Regions from separate parts of the Homo sapiens genome. Here all the other regions are reported to be linked to region 4. Evidence: microRNA targets listed by miRTarBase, many of them from high-throughput screens and not tested one by one. Region 4 holds a microRNA gene; each other region holds the end of a gene's coding sequence.
Evidence for each region. The annotated mature microRNA hsa-miR-1249-5p reads AGGAGGGAGGAGAUGGGCCAAGUU and lies in region 4 at 1,699-1,722, shown strand. An mRNA with a match to its seed (bases 2 to 7 or 8) in the 3' UTR can be bound and repressed. Matches are read on the target gene's strand: a 7mer-m8 pairs with bases 2 to 8, a 7mer-A1 pairs with bases 2 to 7 and ends in A, and an 8mer does both.

Region 1 (3,000 bases), not on the chromosome of region 4:
CTCCTAACACTATCCCTCTCCCAGCCCCCCACCCCCCGACAGTCCAGGCGTGTGACGTTCCCCGCCCTGTGTCCAAGTGTTCTCATTGTTCAATTCCCACCTATGAGTGAGAACATGCGGTGTTTGGTTTTCTGTTCTTATAGTGAAGGTTTTTATAAAAAAAATTCTAAAACATCACTGAAAGATTTAAAATGACGTAAATAAATGGGAAGATGAACCATGCTTACTGGCAAGAACACTAGGTATTGTAAAAAATACAGATTCTTCCCCAAATTAGTTTTAAATTTACTGCAATTTTTTTTTTTTTTTTTTGAGATGGAGTCTCGCTCTGTCGCCCAGGCTAGAGTGCAGTGGCACGATCTCGGCTCACTGCAACCTCCGCCTCCCGGGTTCAAGTGATTCTCCTGCCTCAGTGTCCCAAGTAGCTGGGATTACAGGCACCTGCCACCGCACCCAGCTAATTTTTGTATTTTTAGTAGAGACGGGGTTTTACCATCTTGGCCAGGCTGGTCTCAAACTCCTGACCTTGTGATCCACCCACCTCAGCCTCCCAAAGTGCTGAGATTACAGGCGTGAGCTGTAAGTTCTATTAAAATCCCAGCAGGGTTTTTCAATGGAGTTGACATGCTGACCCTGAAATATTCATAGAATTGCAAAGAACCAAGAATAGAAGAAAAACAAGGTGGAGAGATGACCCTATACCAAAAATTATTAAAGCTCCAATAATGGAGACCGTGAGTCTGGTATGGGACTAGACAAGTAGACCAATGGAGAACCCAGAAACCAACTCCCACAGCTGCAGAACCCAGAAACAAATGCCACGATCCAGCTCTCCTGCTCCACATCCACCTGGTGGTGTTGGAGGATCCATTGCTCTGGATTGTGAGCACAGAGTCTGGCCACCCAGGGCTGAGGCCATCCGCAGGGGAAGACAGACTGATGTGAATGTAACCTCCAGTCTGAGAAAGTTCGGACTTACCCTTATACACAGAGAAAAATACCAACTCAAAGCTCTTCTTTAGAAATCATGATGCCAATAATAATTGCTCATCCTTTAGTAATAATAGCTAACATTCATTAACATGTATTGCCTGCAGGCCGCTGGGCTAAGTCATTATATGCTTTATTGCCTTTAATTCTCACAAAAACTCTACGAAGCAGGTACTATGTTATCCTGTTTTAAGGTTCAGGAAACCAAGGCTTAGAGAATGTAAGCAGGTGTCTTACCCAAAGTCCCATGCAGTTAGTAAGTGGTAGAGCTGGGATTTGAACCCACAGTTGTCAACTCGCCAGCCCCTGTTTTAACCACTGCCTCTCATAAGCACAGACATTCAATTAAAGCAACAAAGGTTTTACGGCTTTCAGTTGGAAGAACAAATGAGACTGTGACAGCAGCTGAACTAGAATCAAGCTTATCATTATATTCATGAATACCAGTCACATGTTAACTGCTCCATAAATGCTTGTGAAATGAGGTGGCAGAGTTCCAGGAAATGCAAATCAATCCAGTTTCAAAATGACATGTTGCATGGATGTAAAGCAAGTGGAAACTCACAGGAGGCTCAGGAAACACGCTGGACCTACACTGGGCACCTGGAGGGAAGGCTCCGTGTTTTCTTCCTCTCTCAGCCTCACAGAAGTCGCTTATCCTGAAAATGCTCATGCATGAATGGAGTCCAGTGCTCTCCCAAGTAGCCCATAGGTCAGAGAGACATAAAGTGAGAAAAATGGAGCAAGGGAAAAAATGGCAAGAGCTCTACTTCTCAAATAAAATTCGATGAAGAGGGCCAGGTGTAGTGGCTTACGCCTGTAATCCCAGCACTTTGGGAGGCCAAGGCGGGCAGATCACTTGTGGCCAGGAGTTCAAGACCAGGAGTTTGAGATCAGCCAGGCCAATATGGCAAAGCCCCGTCTCTACTTTAAAAAGTACAAAAATTAGCCGGGTGTAGTGGCACACGCCTCTAATCCCAGCTACTCAGAACGCTGAGGCATGAGAATCACTTGAACCTGGGAGGCGGAGGCTGCAGTGAACTGAGACGGCCCACTGCACGCCAGCCTGGGCCACAGAGCTAGACTGTCCAAAAACAAAAACAAAAAATTAGATAGAGCAACAGCCTATCCTTTCCCTCCAGGAAAAGCCATCATCACTTGGATGGCATGTGTTCCTTTATCCACGCATTGATTTCACAAACATTTACCGGCTTACTCTGTGCAGGAGACAGGCCCCGGCCTGGAGCTGTCCCCTTACTCAGTAGACACTGAAGAGGCCCCTCTCTCCACCAGACGCCAAGCCAGGCACAGCGGAGCACGGATGGGTCCAACACAGTCCAGCGCCCCCGGCAGTGTCAGCGCACACCCGCGTGGGAGCTGGGGAAGGCAGGCAACCACAGTTTACAAACGTCAAGCTCAGTTTCCAGGAACGGGCGGGGGACACAGAGAGGAGGGGTTGCGGGCCTGTGAGAATGAAGAGCACAGAGCGGAGAGGGGGAGGAGGAGGGAAAGGAAGGCGTGGCAGTGAGAGAGAAGAGGAAGAAGAGAGGAGGAGTGGGGAGGGGAGGGAGAGCAAGACAGCAGCGGGTCTGGATTCCCCTCCGAGCCACATCTGGTCAGGTTCTAAGTAATTAGAAGATTTTCCCATTGGTTTACCCAAGGGCTCTCTCTCTGATTAATTTTCGAAAGAGTTGGCCAATTTTAATCATAGCAAACACGATGATCACGGTGATCATGGCCTGAACAGCTAAAAGCAGAAAATAAAACCCCCAGAACGGACTATGATCTTGACCTTTGCCCGTGGTCACCGGCTGGGCCCACACCCAGGGTTCTGAGCTGTTGGGAGCCAAGGCTGGGTGGACAGGGGCTTCCGAGGAGCTGTCCGCAGCGGGGCGGGGAGGCGGGCCCCGGGGGCCCGGGCACTCCGCGTCACCCCCCGGCAGGGCCCAGAGCGGCAGGCCGGCGTGCGCCCCAGGGCCTGCGCACCGTGGGGGCTCTTCCCCGCCCACG
Region 2 (3,000 bases), not on the chromosome of region 4:
CGGGAAATTCTTTAGTCGAAGTTCTGACTATATTGCACACCAGAGGGTTCACACTGGTGAAAGGCCTTTTGTGTGCAGTAAATGTGGGAAAGACTTTATCAGAACCTCCCACCTTGTTCGACACCAAAGAGTTCACACTGGAGAAAGGCCATATGAGTGCAGTGAATGTGGGAAGGCCTACAGCTTAAGCTCCCACCTCAATCGGCACCAGAAAGTTCACACTGCAGGCAGGCTTTAGGAGTGCTTTGAATACAACAGGACTCATCAATCAGATGTTGAATTTCATGTATCTGAACATTGACACAAAGGAGATACCTTATGGTGCCAGGTACGTGGGAACCTTCTAGGGATATGTTGCACTTTCTGACTTGCTCAGGTTTTTTGCCAGAGTTATGTCACTGTCAATCCATGTGGCCGAAACCATCTTAACTCTACCAGCTAAGATACCCCAGCATTGGGGAAGGCAGGGTTTTGTATTGTCCAGTCCCTGGAGAAAATCATGAAATGCCTGAGTTCATTGGGGGTCCTCATTCCCTTCTGTATGACAGGTATAGGTATGGATATGACCCATTTTTAGCCAAGAGGGTCTGAGCTGTATCTGCTGGTGGCTTATACAAAAAGTTTACTTTCTTCATGGATATTCTTGGTCTCACATACTTGTAATCAAGTTTTTCCAGCCTCCAAGTCACCTGGCCTGGGAAAGTACTTGCCTCATGTTGCTCTGGTTTGTGATAATAAAGGCTTTACAGTTTAAGCCACATTTAATCTTGGGGCTTCTTCTTATGGTCTGGGGTGGATTGAAAACAGGCTCTGCCAAACTGAAGACAGCCTTTGTGCGGTGCCTCCAACTTTGCCTCAAATGGGACAGTGGGTTGAGGGAGAACAGTTCTTAGTCCAGTTTTGATGTTAACTTCCATAGCTGACAAAGCTTGTTAAGTAAGAATTAAGATCTTGTGTAGACCTGATTTGTCTGGATTTTAGAGTTATTTGAGAGCCCATATTTCACCTTGAGGAGGGTGCTGCTGCTGTGACAGCCTGCAGTGTTTTGAAACAGCATGGATTGGGTGTCTTGTTTGCAGCATGTGTCCCATGTTCCCCAACACTGTTGAGGGAAAGCTGTTCCTCAGGACCTGCTGAGTGGCCATATTCCCTGAAGGCCTGAATCTGTTTCACAGGCCACTGTTGGTAAGATCTAAAGCATCCAGTAGGGAAACAAAATTGATAAATATTGAGTGTGAGTAATTGGGATTGGGGAGATTGTGGCAAACTAGAGGGGAAGTGCCCATTGTAAAAACACATCCACAGACAGTCCAGGCACTAAGGCTGAATGGGATCAGGGTATCCAGAAATCTCAGGATCTCCAGGGCCATGTTACTGTTAGGTCAAGGTCACTGGTGCAGCAACGAATGTAGTTTTTCTAGATTCCTCTCCCTCCCTGGGCTCTTTACCTAATGTCTTTGCGGCACAGGCGGTAACCCTGGGAGTAAAGAGGTGTGGTCCAAGGAAGTAGCTTTTGTGACCAGCTGGAGTTTCTGGTGACTCTTTTGGCAATGGTCCTCATTGTTTGCCAGTTTTTCTTACTACTGAGGAAGAGATTGTCTTCCCAAGATATTTGGAGTGATAAGAGTCACCATAGTGAGGTAGAGTCACTCTTAGTGATGTCCAGTTGTCCAGTTTCCAATAGAAGTGGGAGATCCAGATTTTTAAATGGGATAACTTTTTATAGGTTCACTGAGGTGTAATCAACATGCAATATATTGCACATATTTAAAGTGTACGAGTTAAGTCTTGATACACACACACACACACACACACACACACACACACACACTTGAAACTATCACCCTATCAGTGGTATTGGACATATCTGTTACCCCCAAAGTTAACCTGAGGCCCTTAACCTTTCTCTCAGTGCTCGCCTTCCCCCAGAATCCCTAGGCAACCACTGAGTAGTTTTCACTGTAGGTAAATTTGTCTTTTCTAGAATTTTATGTAAGTCTGCCTATAAAGTGTTAATTTTGCATGCTGTCTTTCATGCAACATAATTTGAAATTTGTCCATGGTATGTATGAACAGTCCATTTTAAAATTACTGAGTCATATTCTGTATGGATATACCACAGTTTATCCATTTATCTTAATTGATGTCTGTACTCCACCCCCATTTTTAAATATTAAAAAGCTGCTGCAAATATTGATGCATGAGTCTTTATGTGGACACTTAGCTGAGAACATTTTTAAGCAGAGGTTTTGAAGGTGTGACCATATATCTTACTAATTATAGTAAAATATATTGGAAAAGAGATACATACAGGGAAGAACTGTGAAACAGAAAAGACCTAAGATTTGATGATTTGGGAAATTCTCAGCCCATCTTAATTGGAAAAAAAAAACAAACCATTGAAATTAAGAGATTCATTGTTAGGAAAGATAGATGTTTTAGAGAGAGAGATGTTTTAGAGAGATAGCCAAGGATGTTTGCTGATACCGGGATCAAAACATACATCAGAACACTGTCACACAAAAAGCTCTTTGAAGAGATTAAATGTGACTTGTAGATCCCCTCAATACAAACAATTTATAAGAAGTTTAAACTATCACTCATCTCAGCAAAAGCCAAAAATATAGATAGGGGATTCCCTAGGAGGAATAATCTGCATAAACCTCTTTTCTAATGTTGTGAATTTCAGTGATGTACAGGAGACTCACAAAATTCTTGAAAATTTTATACCAGTGGAAATGCTCACCTTGGGTCTAAAGGGACCTTGAAAGTATGAAGTTAAAGGGTGTAGGCATGTAAAGTGTGAAGTTAAAGGTTGTAATATTCTATACATGGGACTGGCTGCGGAAACAGGTGCAAGCCCTTGCTACCTTTCATGAGAAAGGAAGGATGACTCAGAGCAGAGGAGAGTCCAGTGGGCAGAGTCCTGAACCATGTGATATTCCCATGTCTTGACTCCCAGTGGCATTTGCCAAACTAGATTTCAGATTTTCTTGGGAT
Region 3 (3,000 bases), not on the chromosome of region 4:
CCAGCCCCTACCTCTGTTGCAGTGTATGCCCCCCCACCACTGGCAGCCCCTGAATCTTCCTGCCCTTCTCTCCCCAGGATTACGAGAGGTCCCTGAGTCGCCTGACGCTGGACGACATCGAACGGTTGGCCAGCCGCTTCCTGCACCCTGAAGTGACTGAGACAATGGAGAAGGGCTTCTCCAAATAGAATTCTCGGAGCATGGGGAGGTGCCCAACGCCAGGCTACCGCTGCATGTCGCACTAAGTGTGTTCTCCTGTTGCAGTTGGGCTCATCATCATCATAGCTGGCATGTACCTGGCTCTGGCCAGGTGCTAGGCACTCCTCACAGCTTGACCTGGGTTTGCTTCCACACCCTCAGAAGAGGAGAGCCGGCACAGCAGAGGCACCGGCGATGAAGTGGCACAGCCCCAGTCGGAATCCAGCGGCTTCTGAAAGTGCCTTGGTGTGAGAAGGAGGAAGGGGCCGCTTGGAGAGCTGGGCTCTCGCATGTCATGTTTAGCCCACTGAGAATATACCCTCAGGTGACTCCCTCCCGATCCTGAAAGGGAAAGCAGCTGTCACCTGACTTCTGGCGGGTCCAACATAGCCCTCAGCTTACCTCTGCAGGAGGCCAAGTGACAGCCAGCCCTGGAACCCCCCGACCCCCGCAGCTGCTGCAGCCAGTGTGCCAGTGTGCGTTCGACAAATGGAAAAGCAGATTGGGGCCAGGGAGTCAGCAAGGCACCCCAGCTCTGTGATGTGACTTTGGGCGAGTCTCAGTGCCACTTGGTCCCCAGCCATGGACTCTATACAGTGAGGGCCACTCACCGACCTGAGTCAGTGTCCTCTGTCTCACAGGGCCCCTCTCCCTTCTGTTCAGTAAACAAACTGAAGCCAAAAATGAAGCCGTGGCCAAGTGTGACCCAGAGATGGGGTGTCCTGGCCCTTAGTGACACAGCTCCTCTCTGGGGCACCCTATCTGCTTGTCTCGTCCAGGAAGCGTTAGGGCTGATGGGTGACTCAGCAAGGCAGTGTCAGAGCTGGGACTGGGCGTAGGCCTTTGTCCTCATCCCCAGCACTGGCCTCCCTGTGGAAGATGAACATATCCCAGCCACCTGTGTACAGGGGCTCACTTTGTGTGCTCCTTGTTGCCTGAGAAGAAACCTTGGGGTGCCAGGGTGGGGGCAGAAGCATGGACTGGGTTCCGGTTCATCCTCCTCCACCCTGCCGTGTGTGTGGGCACAAGAGGACATCTAACCACCTGCTCCTTGGAGGAGGCCCCCAGGGGTGGTAGAGGCTGGAAGGAAGCCACATCAGGAGGACGCCACTCCGGCCCTTCACCCTTGCCAAGTGAGCTGCTCACAGTGTGGTCAGGGCTGCGCGTGCTGGAGGCCCTCCTGCCTGGGCCTTGTGGGGCAAATATTGGGTCCCCAGGCTGGAAAGATGGACAGAGGCCCAATGGGTGAAGGCTTTGAAGAGCACACAGAAGCCCCTGGCCCCCCACGAGAGCTGGAGAGCCATGTATATGGCTTCAAAGCCACCTACGGCAGGGACACACTCGTGAGCATGTGTGGCCTGCAGTTCAGGTGATACATTTACCAGTGTTCTTGTTTGTGTGGTGCCAGGAAATTGATTTTGGAAAAAGTGAAATAACATTAAAGGTGAATGTGAGGCTTCTACTTTTATCCAAAAGGAGCTATATTAGCTAGGCTGTTTCTGATATCCAATCATTGGTTTAACAATAAAGGCAATTTGTTTAATCAGTTAACGGAAATTTCTTGGCTTATGAAAGTGAAAAGTCCAGTGGTATTGGCATTGGCAGCAGGTGAGCAATTTCACCCAGTGTCTTCTGCCTCCCTCTGCGTTGGTATCTGCTACATCCCAGGCCACCACCTCCGAGGATGAAAAGATGGCTGCCTGCAGCTTCCACGGAATCCCTCCCTCACTGCCAGAGCAGCATCTTCTCTGTGTACCACCTCTGCTGTCTCAGATGCCCCCAGCAAATAAACACTCTTCTCGTTGGTCAGAACTGGATTGTGCGTCCAATCATTTTGGCTGGGGTAGGGGGTAATTCTCCGTCAGGGCTGGCTCCCTGGAGCTAGGCATGGGGCCACTTCCCTGGACACACATGGGCTATGCAAGGGACAGAAGGCTCTGGGGGAGGGCTGGATGAATGGATATCCTCAATGGTGGCCGCAAATGGCAGCTGTCCACTACAGGGGCCATGCATGTGTCAGATCAGGGCCACCTCGCAGGTAGTGGAGGAGAGGGCTGGAGGCGTCAAGATCACACAGGGAAAGCGTTTTCTGAGGCTTGGGTTAGGGAAAGCACCAGAGAGAGGAAACACTGCAGGGATGGGAGACAGGAAGTGGGGGGATCGTTAGAGGACACTGGGGATTCTGCATGAAGATGGAGCAGCCACAGGCTGCAGCCCCCCCAATGCTGAGATCCTTTAACAGGGGTCAGAATGTTTACTGCAGGTGCTGCGCCCCTCTGAGCCAATTGTCCGCCCTGAGAGGTAGCACCGAGTCATCCACTGCCCCCTGCCCGGTGAAGGGCCCTGAGACCCACCACCTGCCCCTCAGGGAGGGGCCTCGGGACAGTATCTGAGTCCTGCGGCCATGGTGTGACTACAATGACATCAGGAGATAGCAGCATGAGTGAAGGGCCCAGCTGGGATGAGGTGCTTTTGGTGTCGTTTCCCAAGGGCCCACGGGAGGAAGAGCGGCCTCAGAGGACAGCAGCATTTGCCTTGGGGTGGGGAGGTTCCCTGGCAATGGATCAGCTGGTGTCCCATGTGAGCCTCACCAGCTCCAATAGATCTGCCCGGGCCTGGTACTCCCAGGAGTAGATGCAGCAGAGGTGGCCAGCCTTGAGCCTCCCAGCCCTGAAAAGCCTTCAGGAGAGATGAGAGACACACAGCAACTGCCCTGTCCTCCTCCAGGGCCCAGCTGGAGCGGCCTGCATACACCTTCAGGGCCCCACTGAATGGCCGGCAGTCCTCATTCCTCACCCTCTT
Region 4 (3,148 bases):
GAGCTCTTTCTGCCTCCCTGAGATGCCACAAAGCCAGGCTGAGTCCACAGAGCCAGTGGGCAGAAGAGACTGGCTGGGGACCCAGGCCCGGCCCTGGCGCCTGCCTGGGTGGACCTGCTGGGTGAGCGTGGGCACGTGGCCGGCCTTCCCCGGTGAGTCAGATGGGGATGATGGTGACTGAGGGTCAGCCAGCGCATGCAGAGGCCTAGGCCACCCAGCTCTTTGCCCCGCGGTTTGTAGGAGGTTCTGCTGCAGGAGAGGCGTTCCTGCCTCGCACAGCCGGAAACCAGACTTGCCAGCTTGCCCCAGGTCACAAGGTCTCTTGGGATAGCACTGGGCTTGGGGCCCTGCTCTGCCTAGGCCACTCTCCTTCCCCAGGGCGGGAGGCTGAGGTCAGCAGCAGCTTTGTTCCCAGAAGCCTTTGGTGGGGCACAGGCAGGAGAAGGTCTCCAGCCCACTGGCTGCTTTGCTCTACCTGGTTCTTCCAGAGGGACTGCCCAGAGCTGTAGTTCTTGGAAGAGTACAGGTGTGCTGGGCAGGGGGGTGCCCTTGGCACAGGTCCAGGGGCAGTCTTGCCCAGCCATTGTCCAGGAGAGACGCCACCCACAGCCAGAATCCTGCTCTGCTGCTCTCATAACCTTGGGTGTGTCTCTTTTCCTCTCCAAGCCTCAGTTTTCTCATCTAGAAACAGGGCACGAGGATACCTGCTCCTTCAGTATTTGGGAGGCTTTGAGGAATCCGGGGCTTGGCCCTCAGGAGGATTCCCAGGTGGCAGCTGCAGTAGTTGCTGTTGACCTACTTGGAAAGCAGAGGCGTGGGAATGTAAACGATGCATTACCGCAGGCATGCCTGAGATGAGGGAGTGTGCGTTTGTTATACTTTTAGTTCGAGAAAGATCTGAATCATGCATATCTCCGGGTGGTCAGATGTTGGTTTTCTTTCTCTTCTGTATATCTTTTTTTGGGGGGGAGGTATCTTCTGCAATGAATGTGTTTTGCAAGCCAAAGACAGCAAGTGCTATTTTTTGCAAAGATGGGTGAGAATTCCAGGCAGGGGCCTCTCTTGTCTTTGGAATGAGGTGGTTTATATTTCTGAGTTTGTTTCCGAGATAAAGGGCCTGGTTCTTCTCCCTGGTCCTAAATTATGCCCTGGGACTCTGACAAAATGTGTGTGTGAAAGTCCTTACGAAGATGTGGCCCGAGCTCTGGGCTGGACAAACCCGGGTGCCACCTCCAGCCACAGCCTGAGGGCTGAGTGACTACAGGTCACTAGACCTGCCTGAGCCTTGGTTTTCCCATCTGTCCAGCGGGAGTGGCTGTGAGGGGTGTGAAAGTCCCTGGTGCCTTAGCAGCTGGGCAGCCCTGGGATTCAGGAGGAGGGATGTGCTAGGGTCACACAGGGTCAGCAGCAGGGCTGGCCCCTGGGGACTGCCGCCTGTGCGCCTGCTATTACCTGTCTCCTTCTCTGGCGGGGTCGTCTGGAGCCAGTGCGTGACACATGCTGACTCTGTGTATTGTGGTTGCTGCTGTTTGTTTCTTTTATCTTTTAAAAACCTTCCCCGGCTTGTGGGAACACCGTCTGGAGCCCAGCAGCTGCCAGGACTTTGGTGGATGTCGGAGCCGTGACGAGGAGGCTGACGGGGCTCCCGAAGTCTCAGTCCCAGCTCATCCTGCTCCTCAGATTATTGTTGGCATGGGGAGGAGGGAGGAGATGGGCCAAGTTCCCTCTGGCTGGAACGCCCTTCCCCCCCTTCTTCACCTGGCGAACTCCTACTCGTCCTTCAAGACCCAGCTCCAGCGGCATCTCCTCCAGGAAGCCTTCCCTGATTTCCCAGGCTGTGGATCCCTTTTGCCTCTGTGCTTCATGTATCCTGTGCTTCTCTTTCTCTGTCTCCACAGCCAGCATGCTGTCTATGGTTGTCACTCTCTGAGTCTGTCACCCCAGCAGACTGTGAGCTCCTTGAGGGCAGGGACCTGCAATGTGCCTGTCTGTCCTTAGTGCTGTGCCTGCCTGGCCCTGAGTGGGTGTGAATGTTTGGTGAACAGAACCAAACGTGATTAGAAGTGGGGAGAAGACAGAGGCATAGAGCTACTTAGCACAGTATTTCCTGTGAAGGGTGCTGGGAATGAGAGGGATGGGGCCACGTCAGCCCTGAGAAGTAGGATGAGGAGCGTGGCCCTGGGGGACAGAAGACAGGGCTGCTGCCGTCCTGCTTGGTGACCACAGGCAAGCCAGGGTCTCGGTCCCTGCCTTAGTTTCCCCATGTGTCAGATGGGCTGACGCTAGCCCCTGTCTCACGGAGCTGGAGGCTCAGAGGGTCTGTGTGTGGGGCCAGTGCTCACTCAGCGTCAGCAGCTGTTGTTACTTTGTGCTTGAACACCCCCTACCCACTGTTTGAGGCCCAGAGGAGGGGGGTCTTTCTGCCATTTGCGGCAGCAGCCTGGCCCCTCCTCGGGTAGCACTGGTGGCCAGGTGTCCTGCTGGCCCCTGGGCTGGAACGCATCTTCCAGTCTCTAGGCCCCACCTAGCACGGGCCGGCTGGGCCTGGGTCCTCCTGGGCCAGCGGCCTCTTCCCTGGGAGCTGTGTCAGGTTGTTTGAGGGTGGGATAGGAGGGGCGTTGGGACCCCCGGGGAGGGGGCTGTTCTGCTACTCTGGTGACTTTGGCTGCTTGTTCCCAGGTGACCTCCTTCAGCACACCCCCCACCCCAGAACGGAACAACCGGCCTGCCTTCTTCTCCCCATCCCTCAAGAGGAAGGTGCCCCGGAACCGGATCGCTGAGATGAAGAAGTCGCACTCGGCCAACGACAGCGAGGAGTTCTTCCGGGAGGACGACGGTGGAGGTGACCCCCCACTCCGTGCCCTAGGGTCCCCGTGCCCTTCAGTCTCTTCTTGATCCAGACCAGTCATTCATTCATTTATTCATTCATTCATTTGTTCATTCAGCAGCACTTAGAGAGTGGGTGCCATGTGCCAGGCAGCCCTCCAGGAGCTGAGGGGTAGAGCTGGGGACAGGCAGAAATGGCTGCCTCTGGGGGTCCCGTCCTGGTGGGCTCAGGCGTCTCCTTGGCAGAGTGCTTGGAGCGCAGATGTGCAGCAGTTGGTCAGTTTCAGGGGATTTCCCACCTTTCTAAGGCTTTTCAGCCTGC
Region 5 (3,000 bases), not on the chromosome of region 4:
GGAAAATGTTCAGGTTGCACAGTCAAATCTCACCAAGGACCGTTCTATGAGGAAAAGCTTTGACATGGGAGGAGAAACTCTGTTGTCTGTCTGTCCCATGGTGCCGAAGGACTTGGGCAAATCTTTGTCTGTGCAAAACCTGATCAGGTCGACCGAGGAACTGAATATACAACTTTCAGGGAGTGAGTCAAGTGGCTCCAGAGGCAGCCAAGATTTTTACCCCAAATGGAGGGAATCCAAATTGTTTATAACTGATGAAGAGGTGGGTCCCGAAGAGACAGAGACAGACACTTTTGATGCCGCACCGCAGCCTGCCAGGGAAGCTGCCTTTGCATCAGACTCTCTAAGGACTGGAAGGTCACGATCATCTCAGAGCATTTGTAAGGCAGGAGAAAGTACAGATGCCCTCAGCTTGCCTCATGTCAAACTGAAATAAGTTCTTCATTTTCTTTCCAGGCATAGCAGTTCTTTAGCCATACATATCATTGCATGAACTATTTCGAAAGCCCTTCTAAAAAGTTGAAATTGCAAGAATCGGGAAGAACATGAAAGGCAGTTTATAAGCCCGTTACCTTTTAATTGCATGAAAATGCATGTTTAGGGATGGCTAAAATTCCAAGGTGCATCGACATTAACCCACTCATTTAGTAATGTACCTTGAGTTAAAAAGCCTGAGAAACCAAACACAGCTAATGCTATGGGGTGTATGAATATGTCAAGTTTAGGTCATTTAGAAGATTTGACACTGTATTTTGAAATTATGGGAGTAAACACCTTCAAATTTCAGGCATTTCTGCTTTGTGACTAAATACAAACTACATTTTCAAGATTAGGCCATAATGTATATTTAAACACAATGGCTATCAACAGCTGCTAATAAGGTATCAACTAAAGCAGAATTGGGGAATAATAGAAATGGCTGCTTATTTCAAGATATATTTGCCAACCCATTCCTATTCAGTCATTTTATTATTAATGTAATTTGAATGTCAATTTGTGTGCTTTTGGTGATTTAGCGCTGTGGCAAGCAATTTTGCACATCATTTTCATGTTGTTCTTTATGACAAGAATGTTCTTCAATTAGAAAATGTGCAAATAATGAAATTCAGGGCCAGTGAGGCAAATAGACTATCTGACATATTTGACTTTATGAAAACATATTGCCTGATGGCAGAATCAACTTTATAAGTGGTCAACTTCTACACAAGCGTATGAAATACTGGTCAGTAGAACAGCCATTGTGATTGGACTGGTTTCTCTGCAATGGCGCCAACCCCAGGCTTGCCAATACTGCCTATGTAAAGGGCAAGTGTGAGAAGCTATTCTCATTTCGCTGACATACAGGTAGGACTATGGGGGATGGGACATTTGAGTGGGACTGAGATAGGAAAGGCTTGAAAAGAACCCAGAAACACCACCAGGAAGTTGGCAAAGTAAAAGAAAATGACTTCCCCCTCAAAGGGCAATGAGAGGGAGAGAAACAAACCAAAATAGAAGAACTAGACTTTTTAGAAAATGAGTATTGCTAGGGAATTCAACTACCTAATCTTCCCTTATTCTTATATATAAGCAGAGAATTTTTGCAAGGTATTTATTTTTTAATATGCCCTGAATGTCTTTTGCTATTATGTGTACATTTTGCATATGAAAGTCTAAAACGAAACTTCCTTTACTTTTTATACTGTAGTGAAAATTTTCTATTCTTCCCAAGAATGTTGTCCCAAATCTGAAATTACTGGTTCAATTTCCTGATATAAACATTTACAATTAGAAGCTAGATAGTACTGGCAGAGTCTGCAAATCAGAACACTTAAATATATCATGGCAGCAAAAAGACCAAGGGAAACAAAATGACAAATGTATTTATCAGAAAGCAAGCAATGCTGACTGCTTGTTAGAAACCCATCTAGCTATCTTAGGTCACCAGAACTTCAGCCAACGTAATGACATTCAAAAAAAAAGGACATAAGAGATAGCATTTCAATTCAATTAAACCCTAGCCACAGGAGGACTCAAGAAAGGAAGTTGTTTCCTTGGCAGACATAAATGCTGCCTCCAGAAGTACTTCTCCAGCAGCCAAGCAGAATGAGCAGGGTTATCAAGTGGATGTTCAAAGGAAGAAGGAGGCCCTGAACTCCACCAATCCTCCCCAGCCCTCCCCAACAGGCTTTCTCCATCATTGACTCTCCCCTGCTTTTCTTCTTCATTAACTCCTTATTCATTCCCTGCCAGTATTTTGCTTCTGAACTTCACCAGGCCTTAACCAGCCTCCATCCCCAGGTCAACCAGTTCTCCGCTTTACCTAAAATGTGCTTCTCAACCTTTTAGAACCTTGTCCCTTTTGATAAACATGGAAATTTTTAAAGCTTCCTCTTCGCATCCCACTTGGATTCTAAGACAATTAGAATCATTTAGAATCTTTTTGGCTGCTGGAAATGTATAGAAGATAGAGGCTAAATTTTACACTTCAGTTAAGACATTGTCAATCCTTTTAAGCAATTGTTTTCATTTTCAAAATACAGAATGTTAGTAAATTATGAAAATCAATTTTTCATCTTCATTCAACCTGAAGTTGTGATTCCCCCTTGCAAGAATGTTGCATACACACACACACACACACACACACACACACACACACACACACACACACACACACACACACACCCCTCCACTGACCTAAAGCCAGACACCTGCCGTGACTGGGCAGGCTCTCTCCCATTATTAACAGAGGAAGAGGAGGGAGGCAGCAACTTTCAGGTAGCACTGATTCTTGGACATACTCTGTCCTGGGTCAAACCCCACTGGCAGCAGGAATTCTGAATGTATTGGGGACCCCTCCTTAGGCCTCGTTAAGTCTCAAACACAGTACAGCTCACCCAGCATTGCTGACGACTGAAGATTCAGAAACAAAACCTACACACAGCACTGAGGTCTTAATCATAGCAAAATGTGATAAACCATGTTGTGAAAAACTTTTATACATTGAAGCCATGACCATTT

Region 1: miRTarBase lists GP5 as a target of hsa-miR-1249-5p. Seed matches in the 3' UTR shown: 7mer-m8 at 2,554-2,560, 7mer-m8 at 2,493-2,499 and 8mer at 1,595-1,602.
Region 2: the mRNA of ZNF134 is a reported target of hsa-miR-1249-5p. Seed matches in the 3' UTR shown: 7mer-m8 at 1,429-1,435.
Region 3: the mRNA of UBL4A is a reported target of hsa-miR-1249-5p. Seed matches in the 3' UTR shown: 7mer-m8 at 529-535 and 7mer-m8 at 1,916-1,922.
Region 5: the mRNA of KCNQ5 is a reported target of hsa-miR-1249-5p. Seed matches in the 3' UTR shown: 7mer-A1 at 2,665-2,671.

Annotation. Positions count from the first base shown.
Region 1 is chr3:194,393,958-194,396,957 of GRCh38, forward strand. It overlaps GP5 (glycoprotein V platelet), which reads right to left. Exons shown (of 2, transcript NM_004488.2): 2 at 864-3,000. The coding sequence ends at 2,643. Among named protein-coding and RNA genes, the nearest start is that of GP5, 3.8 kb to the right of the region's middle.
Region 2 is chr19:57,621,166-57,624,165 of GRCh38, forward strand. ZNF134 (zinc finger protein 134) reads left to right here. Exons shown (of 3, transcript NM_003435.5): 3 at 1-3,000. The coding sequence ends at 238. Among named protein-coding and RNA genes, the nearest start is that of ZNF134, 8.4 kb to the left of the region's middle.
Region 3 is chrX:154,482,727-154,485,726 of GRCh38, reverse strand. It overlaps UBL4A (ubiquitin like 4A), which reads left to right. Exons shown (of 4, transcript NM_014235.5): 4 at 78-2,010. The coding sequence ends at 188. Among named protein-coding and RNA genes, the nearest start is that of UBL4A, 2.4 kb to the left of the region's middle. RefSeq lists an enhancer at 1-423.
Region 4 is chr22:45,199,567-45,202,714 of GRCh38, reverse strand. It overlaps MIR1249 (microRNA 1249), which reads left to right and starts at 1,696; the gene lies at 1,696-1,761. It overlaps KIAA0930, which reads left to right. Exons shown (of 10, transcript NM_001009880.2): 8 at 2,680-2,842. RefSeq lists a cis regulatory region at 316 and an enhancer at 244-388.
Region 5 is chr6:73,194,979-73,197,978 of GRCh38, forward strand. KCNQ5 (potassium voltage-gated channel subfamily Q member 5) reads left to right here. Exons shown (of 14, transcript NM_019842.4): 14 at 1-3,000. The coding sequence ends at 436. Among named protein-coding and RNA genes, the nearest start is that of KHDC1L, 29 kb to the right of the region's middle.